3 linked regions of the Homo sapiens genome follow. Each later gene encodes a partner of the first gene's protein in a complex. Each region holds a gene or a part of one and is shown on either strand. Other genes may lie near its edges. A codon is read from its position in the direction of its gene.

What was found.
Region 2: the proteins of PPP2CA (region 1) and PTPA are in contact, whole or in part, in a crystal structure (PDB 4LAC), measured with the Homo sapiens proteins. Residues at the interface, in NP_002706.1 of Homo sapiens: Arg89, Gly90, Tyr91, Gln122, Gln125, Val126, Tyr127, Gly128, Asp131, Glu132, Arg135, His191, Asp205, Arg206, Pro213, Arg214, Gly215, Gln242, Leu243, Val244, Met245, Asn249, Asn264, Cys266, Tyr267, Arg268, Cys269; in NP_821068.1 of Homo sapiens: His31, Thr32, Val33, Ser133, Arg134, Phe135, Lys138, Arg141, Asn180, Thr182, Arg183, Arg235, Glu237, Pro238, Gly240, Ser241, Gln242, Gly243, Val244, Trp245, Asp248, Asp249, Phe250, Phe294, Ile295, Met298, Lys299, Thr300, Ala304, Glu305.
Region 3: the proteins of PPP2CA (region 1) and PPP2R3B are in contact, whole or in part, in a crystal structure (PDB 4I5L), measured with the Homo sapiens proteins. Residues at the interface, in NP_002706.1 of Homo sapiens: Cys20 (codon at 5,167), His63, Tyr91, Tyr92, Arg135, Lys136, Tyr267, Arg268, Arg294, Arg295, Gly296; in NP_037371.2 of Homo sapiens: Met410, Leu432, Asp436, Cys439, Gln440, Met441, Leu442, Asp443, Leu444, Lys446, Glu450, Gly451, Lys462, Leu463.

The regions. Positions count from the first base shown.
Region 1 is NC_000005.10:134,223,052-134,230,970, reverse strand, and holds the start of PPP2CA (serine/threonine-protein phosphatase 2A catalytic subunit alpha isoform), read left to right. Parts: upstream 1-4,897; 5' UTR 4,898-5,109; coding exon 5,110-5,211; exon of another isoform or gene 5,212-5,214; intron 5,215-5,416; exon of another isoform or gene 5,417-5,762; intron 5,763-7,919. UniProt on the Homo sapiens protein: Catalytic subunit of protein phosphatase 2A (PP2A), a serine/threonine phosphatase involved in the regulation of a wide variety of enzymes, signal transduction pathways, and cellular events.
Region 2 is NC_000009.12:129,107,145-129,114,414, forward strand, and holds the start of PTPA (serine/threonine-protein phosphatase 2A activator), read left to right. Parts: upstream 1-4,270; 5' UTR 4,271-4,327; coding exon of another isoform or gene 4,328-4,456; coding exon 4,457-4,487; intron 4,488-4,543; exon of another isoform or gene 4,544-4,647; intron 4,648-7,270. Other genes in the region: CRAT (carnitine O-acetyltransferase), read right to left, coding at 670-933, 1,959-1,988. UniProt on the Homo sapiens protein: PPIases accelerate the folding of proteins. It catalyzes the cis-trans isomerization of proline imidic peptide bonds in oligopeptides. Acts as a regulatory subunit for serine/threonine-protein phosphatase 2A (PP2A).
Region 3 is NC_000023.11:355,908-362,907, reverse strand, and holds part of PPP2R3B (serine/threonine-protein phosphatase 2A regulatory subunit B'' subunit beta), read left to right. Parts: intron 1-575; exon of another isoform or gene 576-653; intron 654-1,317; coding exon 1,318-1,503; intron 1,504-7,000. UniProt on the Homo sapiens protein: The B regulatory subunit might modulate substrate selectivity and catalytic activity, and might also direct the localization of the catalytic enzyme to a particular subcellular compartment.

The DNA.
Region 1 (7,919 bases):
TAGCTACAGAGTTGGTGACAGTATTAAGGTTTTCCCAGCCTTCTGGAGTGATGAACTTTGCCTTCCATTTCAGAGTTTTTTTTTCCTGTAATGGAAAAATGTCTCCTTTTGTAACTGAGAATACTATCCAGACATCAGGGGCATCACCAGGGGACATGGTCATTTCTCTCTTTTTTCTTTAGCCGGACTGTAGAAGCTGGAGGAAAAGGCAGTATATCTGTGGCAAAGTTCCTGGCCACAAAATTTTGGCTACATTTATAAAATTCTAATTCCAGGTGAAAGGGGAATATAAACTTAATTTTTCTGAAAACTACAAAGAACAGAGACAGATACCAATGAGCTGCAGGCATCATTGTGTAAGCTGAGTGCAGAAATCGTCTGGTAGCTGGGCAGGCGTCGTTGGCCAGAGCATGGCAGGCTTTCCATGGCCAAAGCCACTAAGATTTTGACTGCTCAGGACTTCATTTTGGGGCTTCTGGGGCATAAAAGGCCTTGGTACAAAGAGCATGTTATCCTTTTCAACTATGGCACCCTTTTCAGATGTAAGATTCTGAGCTGACAGGAGCATGGGACCGATTGTATTAATTCTTGGATTTAGTCCTAAGTAACTTTTTCTCTATATAACAAGTCTAAATGGATGGCAAGGCAAGAGAGGAGTTGTTCTGTTTATTCCATCTCTACCTCTCCTTGAATTTCCTCCTTCATCCCCACTTCATCCAATGGCTTTGTGTTTACATGATGTTTTTATTTTATTTATTTATTTATTTTGAGACAGAGTCTCACTCTGTCACCCAGGCTGAAGTGCAGTGACGTGATCTCAGCTCACTGCAACCTCTGCCTCCCAGGTTCAAGCAATTCTCCTGCCTCAGCCTCCCGAGTAGCTGGGATTACAGGCACCCACCAGGACGCCTGGCTAATTTTTGTATTTTTAGTAGAGACGGGGTTTCACCATGTTGGCCAGGCTAGTCTCGAACTCCTGACCTTCAGTAATCCACCCGCCTCAGCCTCCCAAAGTGCTGGGATTACAGGCCACTGTGCCCGGCCTACATATTTTTGATACCTCTATTTCTGTTTCCTAACACCACTATGTATTTCACTGCAGATATGAAGGACTCCAACTGGCATTAGAGGTTATGTATTTAAAATCCAAGCCCACTTAGAAATTATAATAATAAATAACAACATCTAGCACTTATTATACATTAATTAATACTATTTTGGTGTTATTTATTTATTTATTTTTGAGACAGAGTCCTGCTCTTTTGCCCAGGCTGGAGTGCAGTGGCGCGATCTTGGCTCACTGCAGCCTCTGCCTCCCGGGTTCAAGCTATTCTCTTGTCTCAGTCTCCTGAGTAACTGGGATTACAGGCACACACCACCACACCTGGCTAATTTTTTTGTAGTTTTAGTAGAGATGGTGGTTTGCCAGGTTGGCCAGGCTGGTCTCGAACTCCTGACCTCAGGTGATCCACCTGCCTCAGCCTTCCAAAGTGCTGGGATTACAGAAGTGAGCCACTGCGCCCAGCCTGGTTTTATTTATTTATAATTTCATTTAATTCTCAGAATAACCTTATTATTTTTCTATTATAATTATTCCCACTTTATAGATGAGAAAACCAAGACTCAGAAAAGTTAGGTAACTTGCCAAAGTTCACACATCTAGGCGGTTGCAGAACCAGAATTCAAACCCAGTTCCATCTGACTCCAGAGTCGTTTCTGACACTGGTCTACTTTCTGTCTCAGTAAGTTTAGAAGTCAGGGAACTGGAAGGAACAACAACAAAAAAATAAACCTAACTTAATGCCAAGAGAATTGCTGACAAGATATATCTCATTCCTACTCCATGTTTAATGTCAATTTTTGTATCTTGGGTAGGGTGCCTATTATAAAGCTATTTGCTCAAGGTTATCCTCCTCCTACCCCGCCCCCATCATCAGATGATTTTTATTTATAGCTATGTTTAAACATCATGGGCAACACTCAGACTTGCTGTATATTGAATTTGCCATCAGAGCAAAGATTCTTTCTCAAAGCATATTTGCTTTATTTACTCTCTGGTGTTTCCCAATAAATTAAAAAGACAATTCTTTTTGGTTTGCTTTAAATTTTTTGTTCCAAATATTCTTCAGCTCTAGAATTGAGTCAGTGAGGTCAAATTAGTCAAGACCAGATAAGTCAAAATGAATTTTCATTTTCATGTCCATTAGATATTTTGTTCTACAGAATACACAATCTGAATTTCTTCTAAAGAAAAATATATCCTGATTAATTTACTTCTGTATTGTTTATGATCATGTATGCTTTACTTCACTGTCTGATGCTAAGAGCTTCCTAGAATTCATTCCTTAAGAAGTTAAGTCATGGCATTTAATTATTTGGCAGGATGTTTTAAGTACATATAATTATTATATCTTCCCTCCATTTTGTGATGGTGGTGAGCCAAGTAATCTGCATCAAGAGAAAATAAATAACACCTACATTAATGCTACCAACAAGGGGCTCACAGTACTTTGGAAAAACTCATAATTTTAGCACACAGTGGGTGTTCAATACTTCATCATCTATCAAACTAACATCACCACACCCTTTCCAGGTAAGAGAATCTAGGCAGGCTGGGTGCGGTGGCTCACACCTGTAATCCCAGCACTTTGGGAGGCTGAAGCAGGCGGATCACCTGAGGTCAGGAGTTTGAGACCAGCCTGGCCAACGTGGCGAAATCCGTCTCTACTAAAAATATAAAAATTACCCGGGCATGGTGGCGGGTGCCTGTAATCCCAGCTACTTGGGAGGCTGAGGCAGGAGATTTGCTTGAACCTGGGAGGCAGAGTTTGCAGTGAACCGAGATTGCACCACTGCACTCCAGCCTGTGCAACAGAGTGAGACTCTGGCTCAAAAAAAAAAAAAAAAAAAAAAAAAAAAGAGAGAGAATCTAGGCAAAGAGAAATAATGTTGATTCTGTTCCATATGTCAGACCTTGGAAGGTCAACTGCATGACTGTGGCTGAGACTTTGTACTTGGGAGTGTGCAGTTTTAAATCCTGACCACTATCTTAGGCAAGTCCCTTCTCTTTTCTGAGTGCCTGTCTGCTTCTTGCCCCATCAGACAGTTCTCACACAGGTTCATGGCAACGGTAAAGAATAAGATTAGACAGCACACTGGGTATGGCTTTATAATCACGGGCACTAAGTGATGATTTTTTCCTTATTCATTCCACTTGGTCTTAACTCTTACCCTTCTATTGTTTGGGGATGTTAACTGCAAAACAGGGACAGAATTTGGGCTAAAGGGTCTTTTTCCCAGTCTGGTAAATTAAGTATGTGATAAGACTTCTAGAAGAGTAGATTTAAGGTACTTTCTTTTGTGCACACTAATGGGAGGTGTGAAGGGAAAGCAGAATTGCAATTTCCAGCCTAGGGAGGCCAAGCCAGTCGGCCTTGCCAAACACGTTGTCTTGGATAAAGGAGGATTTTCAGTCCTGCTATTGGCTGATGGGGCCTCCAGTGCCTTCTTCAGCCTGTTGGTGGGGATGATGCCCTCAGAGCCGCAGAGTGAGCAGTCTCCTCCCAAGCATCGCTGAGCACTTGGGTGTGGAAGGGTTGCCTGATACTGAGGGTGGGGTTCCTGGAAGACAGGCGATCAGGTTCAGCTCTTGCCTTGCCCTTTATGGTTAAATGTTCTTTGGAAAGCTTCTATATCTTTCAAATCCTGGGGGCATTATGATCTCTCTTCTGCCTATCCCAAACCATCTTCAGCCAGTACTGTTGGGAGAATACAAGCTCCAGGGCATGGTCCCTGGTCCGTCTGGATGACCCCTCCGGATCTGGCATATAGCTGGCGCTCTATGGAACCAGATATTTATGTAAAAGCAGGGACAATGGAATGTGAAAACGTTTCGCAAACTCCAAAGCGATTCATAACCAGACAGAGGTCCAATCCTAGGGTATACGAGCTCTCTCTTTTAAGCACGTATCACAGCTGCTTCTCACGCCACCGAGACGCGGTCAGGACAGGTGCATCCATCTTCTCTGGGCTTCCCCTCTTGAAAGTAGGCCAGGGCGCGCAGGGGTTGAGGGTCTCTCATTCCCAGAGAGAATTAAACTTGGAGGAAAGCAACCACCGGCGAGGAGCGGGGCGCGTGGAAGCGAGCCGCGGTCCGAGGCCCAAAGAAAAGCCCAAGCCTCGCCCCCGCCATCGCGCCCGACGAGACACCTAGGTCCGGGGACGGGTGTGTGCCGCGGAAGTCAGGTGCACTGCGCAGCACTCCCCCGGTAGGTACACGCTCCTCCACCTACGAGTGACCTAATTACAAGGTGCCAGCCGCGCCCAGAGGTGGGGGTGGTTAATCCAAGCGGCCACTCGCTGCCCGTTCCTGCCCCCAAAGATGACGGAAACCCACACGATTACAGAGCCGCAGCACCCCAGATGAGCCACGGGGTCGCAATTCTCGTTTCCGTGATCGGACTGCCAGGCCCCAGGTGAGGAGCTGAGTTCATCACCAGAGCGGCCTTCCCAGGGGAACCAGTTACAGGCTGCCAGTGGCCCCGGCTTCCATCCGGTCTGCGCCTGCGCGCGGCCCAAGCCCTCGCCTCTCCTGGAATAGTGCTCAGGGATTAGTCCGGTTCGCCGCTGTGCGCACTGCGCATGCTCCAGCTCCATCCTTCCCTTCCCCCACCACCCCGCCCTCCGGGAGCCACGCCCAAAAAGTCAAGGCGCTTCAGTTACCAGCCGGCTACGTCGCGCCTGCGCTTTGACCCCCAGTTTGCGCCCCAACTCCGGTCGTGCGGCCGCCCGGGGAGGGCTCTGCAGTTGCGCAGCTTGCTCCCCGGCCCTTTTCCCCTCCGCTCCCCGCCGCCTCCTGACGCCGGGCGTGACGTCACCACGCCCGGCGGCCGCCATTACAGAGAGCCGAGCTCTGGAGCCTCAGCGAGCGGAGGAGGAGGCGCAGCGGCCGACGGCCGAGTACTGCGGTGAGAGCCAGCGGGCCAGCGCCAGCCTCAACAGCCGCCAGAAGTACACGAGGAACCGGCGGCGGCGTGTGCGTGTAGGCCCGTGTGCGGGCGGCGGCGCGGGAGCAGCGCGGAGCGGCAGCCGGCTGGGGCGGGTGGCATCATGGACGAGAAGGTGTTCACCAAGGAGCTGGACCAGTGGATCGAGCAGCTGAACGAGTGCAAGCAGCTGTCCGAGTCCCAGGTCAAGAGCCTCTGCGAGAAGGTGAGCTGTAGTACGGCTGCGGACAGCCGCCGCGGGGCCGAGCCCGCCGAGGAAAAGGCGGCCGTGAGGAGGGTGCAACATGGCGGAGGCCGCCGGTCCGGGCCCCCCGAGTCTCCGAGACCGGCGCCCATCCTGGCCGGCGGCGGCTTCCTAACGACCCGGCGCCCCCTGCCTCCCGCGCAGGGATTGGTTGCCGCCGCCGCCTAAAATGGCGCCGTTCACTCGACTCCTGGGCTTTTGAGTCAGCCGGCCTTGGCGCCAGACGAGGTGGCAGGGGGAGCGGAGACCCTGTGGGTCATCGTCAGGGACGGTTTTGAGGGTGAGCTGGCTTGGATTCTGCGGCTTGGGAATGGAGCCTGGGCCTCTCCGGTGGGCTGAGTAAGAGTCTTGCCGCTGGTACCCAGGCCTAGTTAGGTCCAGAGCTGCCCAGAGGATCCCCCAAAGGCAGTCTTGTTAGGCCGTATCCCAGAACATACCTAAAGGTCACACAGCTTTAGTACCCCTTGGTGGTTTGTATTAAACTCACCAAGCGATCTTCTCCAGAAATCAAGGTAAGGGGTGTCTTTAAGAATTTTTAAATTATTCTCTTAACCTAATTTTTACGAAGGTCATGGTGGTAGCTATAAGGGAGGAGTGTAACTTATTTTTCATAGTTGGAAGAAATCGGGAATTTGGTGAGTCATACTACATAAGGAGCTTTTGGATTGGAAATCAAGTGTCGGTTGAATATGATTTATATGCTGACTCAAAGCCTTCTCTAAGCTTAACACACTTGGCATTTTGCCGTTTATTTTTAAAATGAACAACATAAAATGGAAGAGCGGTAAATTTTGTATCTTTGTTGCAAAAATTACTTGATAGTATTTTGTGGCTGCAAGTAGTAGTAGTGATAATAACTGTCGACTGAGATTGTATTCCAGACATTGTGCTTAGTGTTTAAATAATGTCTCACATACACTGAAAATAGAATGTTGTAGTCCACTTAGTAACACTAAACTTTATATTAGCTAATTCCCTTTTGTTTTCCCCTGGGGGTTGGGGAAACAGGTAGTTAATTTAGCTATTAGCTTTGTGTTGTATTTTTAAATTCTTGTAACTCAGTTTTCTAAAGTACACAAAATGCTGATCTCTGCTGTGAACATTTTAACTTCCCTTTTCAAAATTAACTTTGCAGCACGTCACTTTAGTACAGAATAGTGGAGTATCATATTAGCATTTTGTATCCGTGAAAAGAATTAATGGAGAACTATTATCCTGATTTGTTTCTGGTTTGATGTGAAAATTAGGTTCATGAGTTTGACGTATATGTTTCCAAGACAGGCTTTTTTAGAAACCATGTTGTGAACAATTGGAATTTAAGTAAGTCAGATTTAGATTTGTTTCTCCCAAGCCTGAACAAAACTACTACTAGTGGATGAGGTGGCACATCATCTGTTGGAGATGCCTTTTAATGGTAGCGATGTATTGAATCTCCTGTTTCTTTACCCTCTCACGTCAAATGAGGTTGGTATTTATTTTAAAGGTTTAAAATTGGCCTTTAAAAATGAATGTATATTGCCAGGTCTTAATTTCTAGGTACTGTACATGATGATCTTACCGATTTTTGGAATTCAGTGCATTATATGAAAGACTTTTAAGTCAGTAGTTGGCCAGTTGACTAGTCTTTTGAAGAAAACGTGGAAAGGAGGGAGGTAATGACGTAACTGGAAGACTGGACTGCGAGTTAGATTTGGACATGAGTCCTTCTGCTCTTACTTGAGTAATTGTGACAGACTTTGGGACAGCCACTTCACTTGTCCTTGTTTTCCTGTCTATAAACTAAAATGTGTTCTGAGATTATACAGTCAATTCCGTTTTAAATTAGTAGTGTGTTTAATATTGAACATCTATTGAATATCTAAGATTGCATACTCTTTTGAGGGAAATGAAAAGCAATGAAGAATAAGTATGCTTATTGTCGAGGAGCTATGAATCTAGTTTGAAAGAAAAGCATGGTATGAAAAGGTGTGGGAGATGGAGCATGGAAGTAGAGGGTTTGTGTTGGAAACTGTTGTAGAAGATAAGATAATACTGGATGCTAGAGTGGGGTGGGTGAAGCTGATGCATCTAATATTGCTTTCCACATCTTTGTAAAACTAAGATGTAGTGAGGTAAATCTCCATTGCTTGCGCTGCTTACGCAAATTTTAGTTCTGAGTGCCAAAAAAGATGGAAATAATATTTGAGAGTAGGTGTTATATAAAAGTTTCTGTGGAATGGATCCGTTTTGGTGGATATCATTATACAACCTTCATACTGTTTATAACTGGTAAGTAAGTATTTCAACTTTCAGGATGATATTAAACTTCCAAACTAAATTAATTTGAAGACAGTTTTTTGGGTATGTAGAATCCATGAACTGATGTTTTTTGTACAAGTCTTTCTAGTAAAACAAAAGCTGTCTTTCACTGTTAATATTTGTGTGCCAATGGCATCTCTGGGTGAAAGCTACATATGTGCTTTTTGGTGTGATTGCCTTCTAAAGAGTAATTTTGAAAATTTGAGGGCTAATTTTTTTCATTAGTGTATAATAATAGTATTTTTTGAGAAAAAAGATACTTGTTAATAGTTGATAATTTCTTCAATCATAAGAAGGAATGATAATGTAAAAGCCTTCCTTCTACCCACCTAAATGCCTGATTTGAAGGGGAAATATTTAAATAGTAAAAA
Region 2 (7,270 bases), on another chromosome or scaffold:
TGCCTCAGCCTCCCCAGTATCTGGGATTACAGGTGCGTGCCACTACGCCTGGCTAATTTTTGTATTTTTAGTAGAGACAGGGTTTCATCATGTTGGCCAGGCTGGTCCCGAACTCCTGACCTTGTGATCTGCCCGCCTTGGACTCCCAAAGTGCTGGGATTATAGGTGTGAGTCACTGCATCCAGCTGCCACTTTTTAAATCTGTGTATTGAAGTATGAGATGCAAATAGAAAAGCACACCAAACATTGGTGTAGACATATTTGCCAAACTGGGTACACCTGTGTCATAGATCAGATACAGAACCTGGGCGATCGGTCACTGAGTGACACATATCCCCTGCCTGAGGCTGTCCCACCAAGCACAAGGGCATCTTCTATCTGGTTGTACCTGCCGTGCACCCCACTCCTGCCTCTGTCCTGGAACATGAAACCTTGTCCACAACCTGTATCCTGTTCATTACCTTTCTCTCCTCCCTACTTGAATGTTAGCTCCAAGGAGCTGGTGACTGTGTCCTTCTTGATCACCCAGCACCCTGCCAAGTGCCAGACACAGAGTATGTGCTCACGAAACTCTGGGCAGCAAACGAACGGCCGTGCCAGAGCAGTGGGCACTGGAGAACTGTGCATGTGCAGCCAGCAGCAGGTCACAGTGAGGATGCCCTCACTCACCCAGTTCTCCGTCTTCCTGGCCCGACGCTCCAGCCCCTTCTGCAGGCGCTCCCCTACACCTCCTGAGGCCTGAAACTCATCCACCAGCTGCTTGGTGTGGGCCCACTCCTCCTCACTCACGATGGGCTGCAGCGCCTTCAGGTAGTGGTCCAGGGACTGCTGGAGAGGGGGCACGGGCAGCCGTGGCAGTGCATCCTGGTGTGCCTTGAAGCGGCTGGAAGCCTTCATCAAGGAGAAGGGCTTCAGGAAGCCCAGAGGCTTCACCTGCAGGTAGCAGAACATCCTGTTCATTCCCTCCCCGGCTCTGGAGCCCTGGCAGCCCCAAAGCTGTAGTCCTGGGCACTTAAGTGCCCATCCCTGGGGGCAGAGACGGCCTCTTGGGTGGGGCTGGCCCTGGCCTCCCAGCCCTAGAGCTCTAGGTGTCCCCGCCTCTCTGGGGCCTGGAGATGCAGGTAGGGATGGGGGAGGGTGGGGTGTGGCCATGGTTCTTAGCAAGGCTCAGGGGAACCAAGTCAGGATGAACGGCACCTTTGGGGTGGCAGAGGTGAGGGGGACCGCCCACCTGTTGGGTTGCACAGGCCCCTCCTTTCTCACCCTGGAAGAGGAGCCAGCCAGCAGAGTGGTGACTGTCCCTCTTGGAGGTCCCCACGTCCTTTTCTCCCACCCTTTCCAGGTTGAGAAACAGAAGGGAAGAAGAGAGAATCACAGAGAGCCAGACAATGGCAGCACCTTCGGGTGAGGGGCCTTGGGCTTCCTCCTGCCTTTGAGATGGGGCAGGGGTGGGGTGAGGGCAGTGCTGTGGCGAGAGAGCCGGGTGGCCTGGCATGGAGGGTGAGAGGCGGCAGAGAGAGAAAGAGAAAGTCCAGGAGGCCCTGGAGTGGGCAGAGACAGGAGGGCCCGAGGCTGCTCTTGCAGTGGGCAGGCGAGTGGCAGGAGCTCTGTTCCATACCTTCTCTCTCTGCTGCCCGTCCTCCTCCATGGCAGGACTGAGGTTCTGGGCCCTGTCTGTCTGCCTTGGCTGGATCTCTAAGCCTAACTGTGCTACAAAGTGAGTGAGCAGAACCTAGCCAGAGGCAGCCACTTGCCTGGGCTGGAAAGAGAAGACAAGAGCCAAGATTCAGCGGGAGGCAGGTGGCAGTGGCGATGGCTGTGGTGGAATCGGGGGTTGTGGCAGTGGCAGGGGAAGCTCCTGGACTCTAGAAGCTGCTCCACCCTCCCGAGCTCCCAGAAGTAGAGGAATGGGGAGCAGGTGAGAGGGCTAGTGGGGGGGCATTCCAGTAGAAGGGAACCTGGAAAGTTCTTTCCTTTCTTCTCTGCATGGGCTCAGTGCCAGGGAGTCAGGACAAAAGGTAATAAAAAATCCACCTGTCAGAATCTGCGAAGATCGTTTTGATGAGGGAAAACTTGGCTGGAGGACAGAGACTGCCTGGCCGCTGAGGTTACACCACAGCCCTGGGATCGGTCCTGAAATTAGGGTTGGTGCAAGGGAGCAGACACCAGGAAAAGGCCATCAGTGGATGGGACAGCCAGAAGCCCTGCCTATTTCCTGTTTCTCTCCAGGACTCCTGGGACCCATCTGAGCCATCCCTCTACGAACACTCATTTTTTCCTGAGCTGTGGCTCATTCAGCTAGGGTCCAAGAGCGGAGGACTTTTGGTATGAAAAATAAACCAAAGGACACTGGGATTGGGCTGGATTTGAATGAGCAGGTCCAGGGGACTCTGGGCAAGTCCCTCCTTGCCTCAGTTTCCCTGCAGGAAGGTAACCAGTCCAGTCGGATGGTCCTGGAGGATGATCTAGAGGCTGTTTGTGGGATGGATGCAGCTTGGGAGACAGTGACAAGGGTGCGGTGGAGGCTCAGGGTGTTGCAACACCTAAAAGAGCCTCTAGGCCTGAGCCTGGATGCACCCTCCGCCCTCTGGCCCCGTAGTGTGTGTCTGAGACAGAGTGAGACACCAGCAACATATGCTTGGATCAGGGACGGAAGGGACTGAAATTAGGCTAGCATCCGGGCTGCTCACCGGGGAGGACTGAGGGGTAGATATAGCCAGGGTGGGGAAGGGGGCTAGAGGGGAGGATATAGCCAGGGTGGGGAAGGGGGCTGGAGGGAAGGATACAGCCAGGGTGGGGAAGGGGGCTGGAGGGGAGGGAGACCATGGGGCTGCCACCTGCCAGTTCTGAGGCCTTTCTAGCTTGATGCCTCCGCGTGTTTCTCTGGCCACACACAATTCCCCAGGGACCGTCTGATAAACCAAAGGAGTGTGACCAACTGGACAGGGTCGGAGGAGTGGCTCTGGCCTAAGCGTGCGACGGGTGTGTCAATCGGAGAATAACTGGGAGAGTGAGCTAGGGTCTGGATGCTCCTGGTCTCTCTCCCCTACCGGCCTGTCTCTGGGTCTAAGGGTGGGGGTGCTAACTGAAGCCGGGGTCCCCCTTGTCTTTCCTGGGTCGTTGGAACTGAATGCTCCAGGACGTGGGTTTAATCCCGCTTCTGACCTTGCGCCCCAATCTCCTGCTCTGCCAAACCTGGGACGCCCGCCTGACCCCACCCCATCAGCTGGAGGCCGGGTCGAACAGCGGCCGCAGGACGCGGTCTCCGTTCCCGGACGCAACCGCACGGCCCGCCCAGGCCGTCCAGGGCCCTCAGGCCCGGGATCCGCCGCACTCACCACGGTCCTGGCAGCGAAGGCTAACATCTTCGCTGCCCGTCCGCGGACACGCAGTCCGCTCCGCCCCACACACCGGGCAAAGTCCGCGCCGCCGCCGCCGCGGCTGGGGTCGGTGGGTCCTTGCTAGAGCCTTCGGGCCAAGGTCGCTGAGTTACAGCCGCCAGCCGGTAGAGGCAGCCCCGCGCCCACCCTCTGGGCCGAGCGGGCTGCGGGAAGGCACCCGGGGAGGAGGACTCGCGAGGCGGGGCCTGGGCCGGTAGCGGGCCCCGGGCGGGCAACGGTGCCCGGGAGGTTGGCTGTGGGGCGGGGACGGGGCATCGATGGGGCGGAGTCTCCTTGAGGAGGGACAGGAGGGGCGGGGACGGAGGGGCGGGGCGTCGCCCGGTAGCGGGTCGCAGTAGGCTGGCTGCGAGTCGGGGGCGGGACCACGGCGGGCGGGGACAGAGGGGCAGGGCCGAGGGCGAGTCATTGAGACCTGTGGAGGAGGAAGGAGGAGGTCACCGTCCAGCTGTCTCTCCCCTGTCCCCACATGTCTTCTAAGCTGTTGGAGGTAGTGGTGTGCACCTTTCCAACTCCGTCTGGTGTCCTTGAGCCTAACTCTTAGAGTGATAGGAAAACACAACCATGTTGACCGGGGAATGTCCTCTAATATTCCTTGGGTTAGGGTCAGTACCACCCACAAAGATGACAGGTGGTACTCCGGGACAGGAGACTGTCCCGGAAAAACATGGCTGAGCACAACCCAAACTTGACGCCCCGCACAATCGTGGCAGTCGCGGCGCCCGACGTTCGGGCGGCCGTGAGCGGTCCTAGCGCTTGGCGGCCGTTGGCGCGCATGCGCCCCGCGCGCCCCGCACTGACATGGCCGTCGCCCGGTTCCGCGCGTCCGCCGCGCGCCGGCCGTTAATAGGCTTGCTCCCTGAGCGCCCCGCACCGACATGGCGGCCGTCTTCGCTGTGGTGACTTTAACTCTCGGTTTTCGGTTATAGCCGGCCGGCGCTCACTTGTCTTCAGGAAGCTCGGAGCCTTTGGTGGAGCCGGGGAGAGGAAGGGTGGGTGCAAGAGTGAAAGGCGAGAGGGGACTGCAAGCATCCGGGTCGGCTCCTGGCCGGAGCAAGATGGCTGAGGGCGAGCGGCAGCCGCCGCCAGGTAAGGCCGGCGGGGCCAGGCCGGGCCGGGGTCGGGTAGGGTGGGGGCGGTGCCAGGTGTGGGAGGCTCAGGAGGGCGAGAGTCATGACACGGAGGAACTGGAGGGGCAAAAGCTGAGGGGCCCCGAGGAGGGACTGAGTTGAATGGCCTTAGGGGAGAGGTGGGTGGTGGGGCGCCGCTGGGGAGGGAACCAGGGGCTGCAAAGGGGTGGTGATTGGGGCGCAACTCTGGGTTTTGTGGGAGTCCAGGCTGCCCGAATGCTGGGTGGGCAGCGCCGTGGTCATAAGGGGGCCTTTTGCATCTCTGGGCAGCGCGTGCTTAAGTAAGCTGCTGACTCGGTGGGGAAGCTGCCAGGGAGGGGGGCGAAAGTGATTCCGGAGGCTGCCGTCTTTATTAGTCGCTGCTTAGGGGATGGGGTGGTGCTCCGTGGGCCTGCGCCCGCCTCGCCTCCAGTTTCGGCCTCCGCGTCCTGCTCACCCCTCATCCTCCTACTCTCTGGTTCCAGTGCCTGAGAATTTATTGAGGGAAACTGCCCGTGGTGTCTAAATCCCTAATTTTAAAAGGCTGGTTGTGCAAGGAGGTTAGTCTCTCCGGCATCTCCTTCGGTAACTCTTATTTACCTTGTAGCCTCTTTTTAGTTCATCTTAAATAACTGGGATGGAGGTGCTACGGAAGGATCTTAGAGACCCTTTTTGTGCAGAAGGAGAAGGCTGTTTGCCGACCTACCTTGAACTAAGAAGGACTGGCCATAGATAACTTTTACATTCCCGACAGAGGCAAATAGGTTGGCCGACCAAACACAGCTAATGTTTTGAAAGCATTTGATATTCTTGCTATCCTGTCTCCAATGTTGGGGTCCCTGGGAAGGTCTCAGGAGGGAGAAATGTTGAAAATCAGAAAAGGCATCCCCTCCATGCCCCACAAAAGAGGTGAACAAAGAGCTGGGTTCCGTTTCTTAGGACATTCAAAACCAGACATTTATTTTGTACAAAACCTCTGGGTGTGTGCCCTTAGAACAAGGATGTCCAGGCCAGGCGCGGTGGCTCATGCCCGTAATCCCAGCACTTTGGGAGGCCGAGGCGGGCTGATCACCTGAGGTCGGGAGTTCGAGACCAGCCTGACCAACATGGAGAAACTCCGTCTCTTCTAAAAATACAAAATTAGCCGGGCGTGGTGACACACGCCCGTAATCCCAACTACTAGGGAGGATGAGGCAGGAGAATCGCTTGAACCTGGGAAGCAGAGGTTGCGGTGAGCTGAGATCGCGGCATTGCACTCCAGCCTGGACAACAAGAGTGAAACTCCGTCACCCCCCAAAAAAAAAACCGGGGTGTCCACTCTTTTGGCTTCTCTAAGCCACATTGGAAGCAGAATTGTCTTGGGTCACACATAAAATACACTAACACTAACGATGGCTGATGAGCTAAAAAAAAAGTCGCAAAAAAAAAAATCTCATAATGGTTTTGTGTTTCTTTTTTTTGAGACAGTGTCTCACTCTGTCCCCCAGGCTGAAGTGCAGTGGCATGGTCTCGGCTGACTGCACCCTCTGCCTCCCGGGTTCAAGCGATTCTCCTGCCTCAGCCTCCTGAGTAGCTGGGACTACAGGTGCGCCACCATGCCTGGCTAATTTTTGTATTTTTAATAGGGACAGGGTTTCACCATATTGGCCAGGCTGGTCTCGAACTCCTGACCTCGTGATCCTCCTGCCTCGGCCTTCCAAAGTGCTGGGATTACAGGCATGAGCCACCGTGCCTGGCCTATGTTTTAAGAAAGTTTACAAATTTGTGTCCGGCTACATTCAAAGCTGTCCTGGGCTGTGGGTTGAACAAGCTAGCCTTAGAAGTTCTGGTGATGACTCCGGGCACAGTGGCTCACACCTGTAATCCCAGCACTTTGGGAGGCCGACACAGGCGGATCACTTGAGGTCAGGAGTTCGAGACCAGCCATGGCCAACATGGCAAAACCCCGTCTGTATTCAAAATACAAAAATTAGCTGGGTGTGGTGGCACACGTCTGTAATCGCAGCTACTCGGGAGGCTGAGGCAGGAGAATCACTTGAACCCAGGAGGCGGAGGTTGCAGTGAGCCGAGATTGCTCCACTGCACTCCAGCCACTGCACCCCAGCCTGGGCGAGAGAGCTAGACTCCATCTCAAAAAAGAAAAAGTTCTGGTAAGGACATCAGGAGATAGGAGATATAAGGCAACCACTGTTATCAGTGAGATGAATGTGTCCCTGAAGATGAGTGGGGGTGGGGAGTGGGAGGAGAGAGAACCTGTGCCCTGAAAGAGAGCTGTGCTCAGGGAGGTTATCCGTGGCTGGAAACAGCCAGGTCCCTGGTTGTGGTCCTTTTTTGAAATTTGAAACAGAACTTTTGGGAACAGCTGGAAAGAACTTCTTCTTTTTAGTTTTTTTTTGAGACAGAGTTTCACTTTGTCTCCCAGGCCAGGGTGCAGTGGTGCAATCTCAGCTCACTGCAACCTCCGCCTCCTGAGTTCATGCGATTCTCGTGCCTCAGCCTCCCGAGTTGCTGAGGCGCCCACCACTGTGCCGGGCTAATTTTTTGTATTTTTAGTAGAGATGGGATTTCGCCGTGTGGGCCAGGCTGGTCTCGAACTCCTGGCCTCAAGTAATTCACCCGCCTTGGCCACCCAGAGTGCTGGGATTACAGGCGTGAGCCACCGCGCCCGGCGAGAAGTTCTTAATGTAATGATGAAAACTTTGGATTTTGGAGTCATACATATCTGGCTCTGCCTGGCAAGTCACAGCTCTGTGAGCCTCAGTT
Region 3 (7,000 bases), on another chromosome or scaffold:
GGCGCTGTGGGACCCTTGTGACCTGCGGTGAGGATACTGTGGCAGTAGCAGGGTGGGGACAGTTGGGGTGCTGTCTGTGGGACCCTTGTGACCTGGGGTGAGGGTCCTGTGGGAGTAGCAGGGCGGGCTGTTTTCTCTGTGTGGACACTGGAGCTTGGACCCAGTCCTGGATTGATCCAGGCAGTCAGGATTGTGGGTGCAAAGGCCCTGAGCTGTGGTCCACTGGTATGCGGACTTCCTCCCTGGACCCCTCCTCCATGGCAGTTGGTTGAGGAGGACACAGCCCCGTCCCCTGAGTAGTTGATGGAGGAGGAGGAGGACGCAGCCCCATTCCCTAGGTAGTTGGTCAAGGAGGACACAGCCCTGTCCCCTGAGTAGTTGATGGGGGAGGACGAAGCCTCGTCCCGAGTAGTTGATGGGGAAGGACACAGCCCCGTTCCCTGGGTAGTTGGAGGAGGAGGAGGACGCAGCCCCGTCCCTTCAGTAGTTGATGGTGGGGGAGGACGCAGCACCGTCCCTTGGGCAGTTGATGGAGGAGGACGCAGTACGGTTGCTGATGCTGTTAACTGTTTCAGATGGTGTTTTAACATCACGGGATGAGATCAAATGTCCACCTCGCAGGTTGTGTAGAGATGCAAGCAGGAGACTCTTGAGTGAGTGTTCTGGGGCCTGCAGATATACTGGGTGAGGAGAGTGCTGGTGCTGAGTGGGGCCAAGAGCCCGTGGGCGTGGGCTGTGCACCGGGTGAGGGGCTGAGGCGTGTCCGCAGCAGTACCTGGTGGTCGACCCCTTCTCCTGGCTGTGTGGTTGCCTGCCCTGCCTCTGCCTCTCAGAATGTGAGTCTTCCGGGCTCCAGGGACAGGGTTGCCTGTGGACGGCACCTGTGCCTCTCCACGTCTGAGCTCTCAGGCGTCTGGGGTGCGTGGCTGCCCTTTTCCCCAGGTCCCTGCCAGGTGTGGTGGGGTCAGTGGTGTGGCTCATGGGAATCGGGAGTGGGTCCTGGCTGGGCTCTCAGGTGCCTGGGGCACGTAGCTGCCCTTGTCCCCAGGGCCCTGCTCGGTGTGATGGGGGCTCAGTGGCGCAGAGCCGCCACCCAGAGTGGGGTCCATGGCAGCATGGTGTGGCCTCCTGGGTGAAGGTGGGCCCTGCAGTGGAGTACGTGTGTGGTCCCCCGCAGGGATTGCAGTGTGTCCTCTCCCGGCTGGGATCAGGTGGCCTCAGCACTGTCGGCCCTAGAGAGGCCCCGTGTGTTGTCCGGGTGAAGAAGGCGTTCGATGCTCCCAGGTTCTAACTGAGCGCTGTCTGTCGACTCTTCAGGTTCAGACACGGAAAGAAGAGCCTCTGCCCCCGGCCACGAGCCAAAGCATTCCGACCTTCTACTTCCCCAGAGGACGCCCGCAGGACTCCGTCAACGTGGATGCCGTCATCAGCAAGATCGAGAGCACCTTCGCCCGGTTCCCCCACGAGAGGGCCACCATGGATGACATGGGCCTGGTGGCCAAGGTACGTGTCACGCGTGGGACGTGGAGCAGCCGAGGTGGTACTGCGGGCATGTGAGGGTGAGGCGGAGCGGCCGTGGTGGGTGCGTGTCACACGAGCGTGAGTGAGGCGGCACGGCCGAGGAGGGTGCGTTTCACACGTGTGCGGGAGCGGCCCAGGTTTTCTCTGAGGTTATAGTTGTGGTCTGAGGTTTGCTGTCTGGTTGCTGCTGTGTGAATTCTTAAGCATCTGAAATGCGAGTGGGAATTCCGTCTGCATTCTCATCCTGATGCTGTGAAGAGCGCAGGCCCGCCCTGTGCCACCCTCCCCTTCTCTCCCCTCCGGGGCCAGTGGCGCCAGCTCTCGTGGCTCTCGGAGGCCGTTCTGCACCCTCCTGGCCTTGCCCCTTTCTGCCCGAGGAGCGGCCATCCCAGGCTGGGCAGCTGTGGACCCGTCTCCTGGCAGCAGCCCCATGGGCCCATTTCTAGACTCACCCTGAGTGCTGCGGCGCGGCGTGCATCATTCGCCGCCTGCTTTCCTTCTCAGCTGCATGCTCTCCAGGCTGACCGCCTGGACGCCCACAGATGGAGCACACTCAGTTTAGTGTCTGTCCGTTACCAAGGCAAGGCCTACACCAGAGATGCGTGTCTGGACCCCTGGTGGGTGGTTGTGTTTCCAGGGACCTGTGCCCGCATCTCCAGCCTCCTACCCTCCAGGTGGAGTCGCTGGCCAGTGGATGCTCCCACCCCTCCAAGTCAGAGCCCCAGAGCCTCGGTGCACGGTACATGTGAGCCCCTCACGGTGAGACCCCTGCCCCCCAGCCCTCTCCAGCTCTGCAGCTGTGAAGGGGGTCCTCGGGAGTGAGCAGGTTTTTGTTTTTTGGGTTTGCTTGTTTGAGACAAAGTCTTGCTCTGTCACCCAGGCTGGAGTGCAGTGGTGTAATCTCGGCTCACTGCAACCTCCACCTTCTGGGTTCAAGTGATTCTCCTGCCTCAGCCTCCCAAGTAGCTGGGACTATAGGCATGCACCACCATGCCTGGCTAATTTTTATATTTTTAGTAGACATGGGGTTTCACCATATTGGCCAGGCTGGTCTTGAACTCCTGACTTCAAGTGATCCGCCTGCCTCGGCCTCCCAAAGTGCTGGGATTACAGGCATGAGCCACTGCACCTGGCCGGGTTTTGTTTTTTTAACTTATTAATACAGTCTATTAAATGAGTTGGTTTTGGGATGTTAAACCAACCTTGCATTCCTGGGATAAATTCCGCATGGTCGCTGTGTCTCATCTTTTTTATATGTTGCTGGATTCCAATAATTTTGCAACTGGATTCACAGAGAAGACAGTGCTTGGTAGTTTTCTTGTGAGTCCTTTGTCTGGTTTTGGTTTTAGGGCAATACGGGTCTGAAAGAACACATTAAGTGTCCCCGCCCTTTTTCTATTAGGGATTGTGTTTTTAAAGTATTTTAAAAAGTTTTGTTTTATAAATATGTAAAAACCTCCATGGTTACAAAGTGAGCACTAACAAACTAGACACATTCAGGTAAGTCCAGGTTCTGTCCCTGTCTGTGCTGTTTCTACCCCAGAGGTAATAGTTTCCATAGCTTTGGTTTATCCTCTTATTGTTATTTTAGCTTTTAATATGAGCAATTATGTACAAATATGTGTATGAGTATGAACATACATACTTCTTGCATTTCTTAGAGAAAAATTAGCATGCTGTTGTACACTTGCATATTTGTTTTTGCTAAGTCACTCCGTATTTGTAGAGGTGTCCCTGTCTTGTACGGCAGTGTGGGGCCATGAAAGGACCAGATAAGTCACAACCATGCAAAACCATCTTCCAGTAAAAATTAGGATCATTCTATAATCATTTTTGTTGAAATATTAGAAACTTTCTTACAGTCGGTTGCAAACATGTAGTGAATGAAAAGAACTAATATTTACCTAGTATGCTGTAACTTAAAACACCAGAAGCATTAAGAATTGTTTCATCTCTCAGTAAAAACTTGCCAAAAGTAGTTACAGCAGTGCCATCTCCTTGTCCCGTGTGGAGTGAGCACCTGCTCCGTGCCCTGGCAGACTCACTCGACTTAACACGCCTTGCTCAGCTTCCGCGTTTTATCCTTGGTGCTCTTGAAGTTGTGGGGTATCTCTGAGAGTTCCTTCACTGGGAGGTCTCTTTGCTGGCATTCCGTCTGCTGGGACACCTTCATCCTTTTCAGTACAGCCTCCGTTGTGTGGAGAACTCACCCTCGCGGAGTGCGCCCGGCCCCACCCACAGGGTCTCTGCGCGCCTCGGGCTGGGTCAGACACCTCTTTTGCAGCTCACGCGCTGCGTCCGCTTCGGGTCCTACAAAGCCGCTCGCGCAGCCCAGTGAGGTTCCTGCATGGGACCCATGTATTCCCCTCAGTGCTTCCCCGCCACGATGCCCCTCCCCGGCCGCGGTGCTTCCCCGCCAGGGCGCCGCCCCGCCCTCCCCTACCCCCGCCGCGGTGCTTCCCCGCCAGGGCGCCCGTCCCCACGGTGCTTCCCCGCCACAGCGCCCCTCCCCACGCGGTGCTTCATCCCCACGGTGCTTCTCCCCAACGGCGCCTCCCCCCACCGTGGTGCCGCCCCCCACAGCGGCCACCCCCCCTCCGCGGTGCTTCCCCGCCTCGGCGCCTGGTTCTCATGTGCGCGTTTCATGTCATTTTCCTTCCAGGACTCAGTTCTCGGTGTCACCTCGCTTCCACGCACAGCGGCACTGGCCTTGGTGGCCGTCTAAGGTAGTGAGGCTTTAAGACTTGAAAGAACCTGGTCCGTTGGCTGGATGTCACGTTTGGTGGTAAAAAGCAAGTTTTGTCGTTGTCTTCGACGCCCCAGAGAAGCAGGGTGACCTGGGTGTGACCCAGCGGGGCAGGGGAGAGCTCTGAGACTGAAGTTGTGTCGCTTGCAGCGTCTGCACCGCTGGGAGTCCGAGAGACACCTCCACAGGCCCCACTGTGCCTGCACGCACCGACCCGGCCCTGCAGGCGGAGAGCATGGTGCTCGAGCACCCACCGTGACTGTGGGCAGAGGCCAGCAGGGTGTGCGCTGTCGCGACTTAATCCACCTGCGCTGTGGCGGCAGAACCCTGTGAGCGTCCCGCGTGTGTGGGGGCCGCAGGCAAACTTCAGCTTCCCCGCCAAGGCTGCTGAGCCTGTCTCGGTGGCGCCCAGCTCGCCGCCACCTGCAGATGTCCGTCCACGTCTCCATCGTGTGCCTTTGGGACGGTTTTCTGTGAGCCGGGCCCCCGGCCCAGGGGACGAACGAGTAGGGGTGTCACTGCCGTTTCGAGTTCTCCCCGTCGCGTGAGTGACTGAATGAGGGCCTGGAGTCACAGCTCCACACGCGTGTTGTCAGGCGGGTGGACTTTGGCCGGCGGCTGCTTGAGAACTCACGTCTGAGGGGACTTTGAGTTTGATGAGGGGGGTCCCCCCGTGGATCTTAGCCGTGGCCGTGCAGCGAGGTCCGTGTGTGCCTTCTCCTGGCCCGGTTCTTCCTGTCTGTGTGAGTCAGGGCTGATCTCATACATCATTTCCTCCCTTTCATCATTGTCACTCCTCTGTGTTTTCTCTGAAGCCGTTTGAGACAGAGTCATCAGCTCCTTCACCTCCACCAAACTCCACCCCCTCAGCTGCCCCCACAGGAAAACACACTTTTCTCTTTGTTAATTTCCTTCAAACGTTGTTGGCTAATTCAGGGTTTTCATTTATGGAGACTATTTTGATGATTTACATTTTTTCTAAAAATTTTTTGCGTAACTTAGAAATTTCTTGCTCTAAAGCTTTTCCTTGTCTTGTACGATTTACAAAATCTTGATCGTATCTGCATCATACATAGACACTTTCTTGACAGAATCATTTATTTCCGGTTCCTTTCTTGATCCGTCATGCTACACACTAACGTATATCTCTTTCAGTAAAGCAGCTGTCAGTGTTACAGATTATTTCAGTTCTTTCTCTCATGAATATCTATGGTCATCTTTTTTACATACACTTCCTTCTGTCATTTTTTTTAGTTTATTGAATAGTTTTTTGTTTGGCCAGCTGTATTGTCATATAATTACACACCCTAAGATTCACCAATTTTAAGTGTACAATTTGATCCATTTTGGTAAAGCACACACCTGGGTATCCATCCTCATAGGCAGGACCGGCCGTTTGTCACCTGCCGCGGGTGTCCCACGTGCCTCCTTTTGCACCTCATCATTCCCCTCTTTTCTCCCTGGCCCGGGCCAGCTGCAGATGTGCTTCCGGTCGCTGTAGCTTTGCCTCTCTTAGAATTTCACATGAGGACTCTTGGAGCATTTTGTCTGTGGTTTCTAACTTCTTCCTGGCAGCATCTTTATTTTAAATTTTATTTTGAATGGACAAGTAATATTTGTGTATACAGGGTACAGCAAGATGTTTCGCTATGTGTGTGTGTTGAGGACTGATTAAGTCCTGTGGTGTGGATACTGTGGGGCTCGCTGTGTGGCTGGCGAAGGCGTGGTTACCGTGGGGCTCGCTGTGTGGCTGGCGGGGTGTGGATACTGTGGGGCTCGCTGTGTGGCTGGCCAAGGCGTGGTTACCGTGGGGCTCCCGTGTGGCTGGCCAGGGTGTGGATACTGTGGGGCTCACTATGTGTCCCTGGCCGTATGGGCAGTTTCTTTTCTATCACTGAGTAGCTTCTGCTGTGTGTGTGCTCCATCTCTCCCCTGTTCCAGGGTTGATAGACGTCTGGTTGCTTTGGTTTTTGCTTCTTGTGAGTAAAGCTGCTGTGTGTCTGTGCACTGATTTACGCAGACATGCTTGCATTTTCCTGAGGTGATTAATACCGCAGAGGTGAGCTCTGCCTCATCTGGTGGCCACATGTTTAGTTTTGTAAGAAGCTATAAAACTGCTTCCAGGGCCCAGGAGTGGTGGCTCACTCCACTAATCCCAGCACTTCGGGAGGCTGAGGTAGGCAGATCACCTGAGGTCAGGAGTTCGAGGCCAGCCTGGCCAACATGATGAAACCACATCTCTACTAAAAATACAAAAATTAGCCAGGTATGGTGGCGGGCACCTGTCATTCCAGCTACTCGGGAGGCTGAGACAGGAAAATCGCTTGAACCTGGGAGGTGGAGGTTGCAGTGAGCCAAGATCGCACCACTGCACTCCAGCCTGGGCGACTGAGCAAGACTGTGTCTCTACGCAAAAAAACAAAAAACAAAAAACCCTGCTTCCGGGGTGGCCCTGAGTGACGCATTTCCAGGCAGCAGCGTTGACCCCTGCGGGCACGTGGCCACACGCTTTGCCTTTAGCCGTTCTGTGCGTGTGCAGGCGTCCCGTCCTGGCTGCACTCCTCATTTCCCTGATGTACGTGTTGACCACCTTACGTGTTTCTTTCTCATCAGTTTGCCTTTTTTTCATTTTGGGGCAGCTGTGTTGAGATATAACTGATGTGGGATGCATGGTGCGTGTGGAAGGTACAATTCAATGAGCTTTGACGTCTGTACCCACCCATGAAACTATCC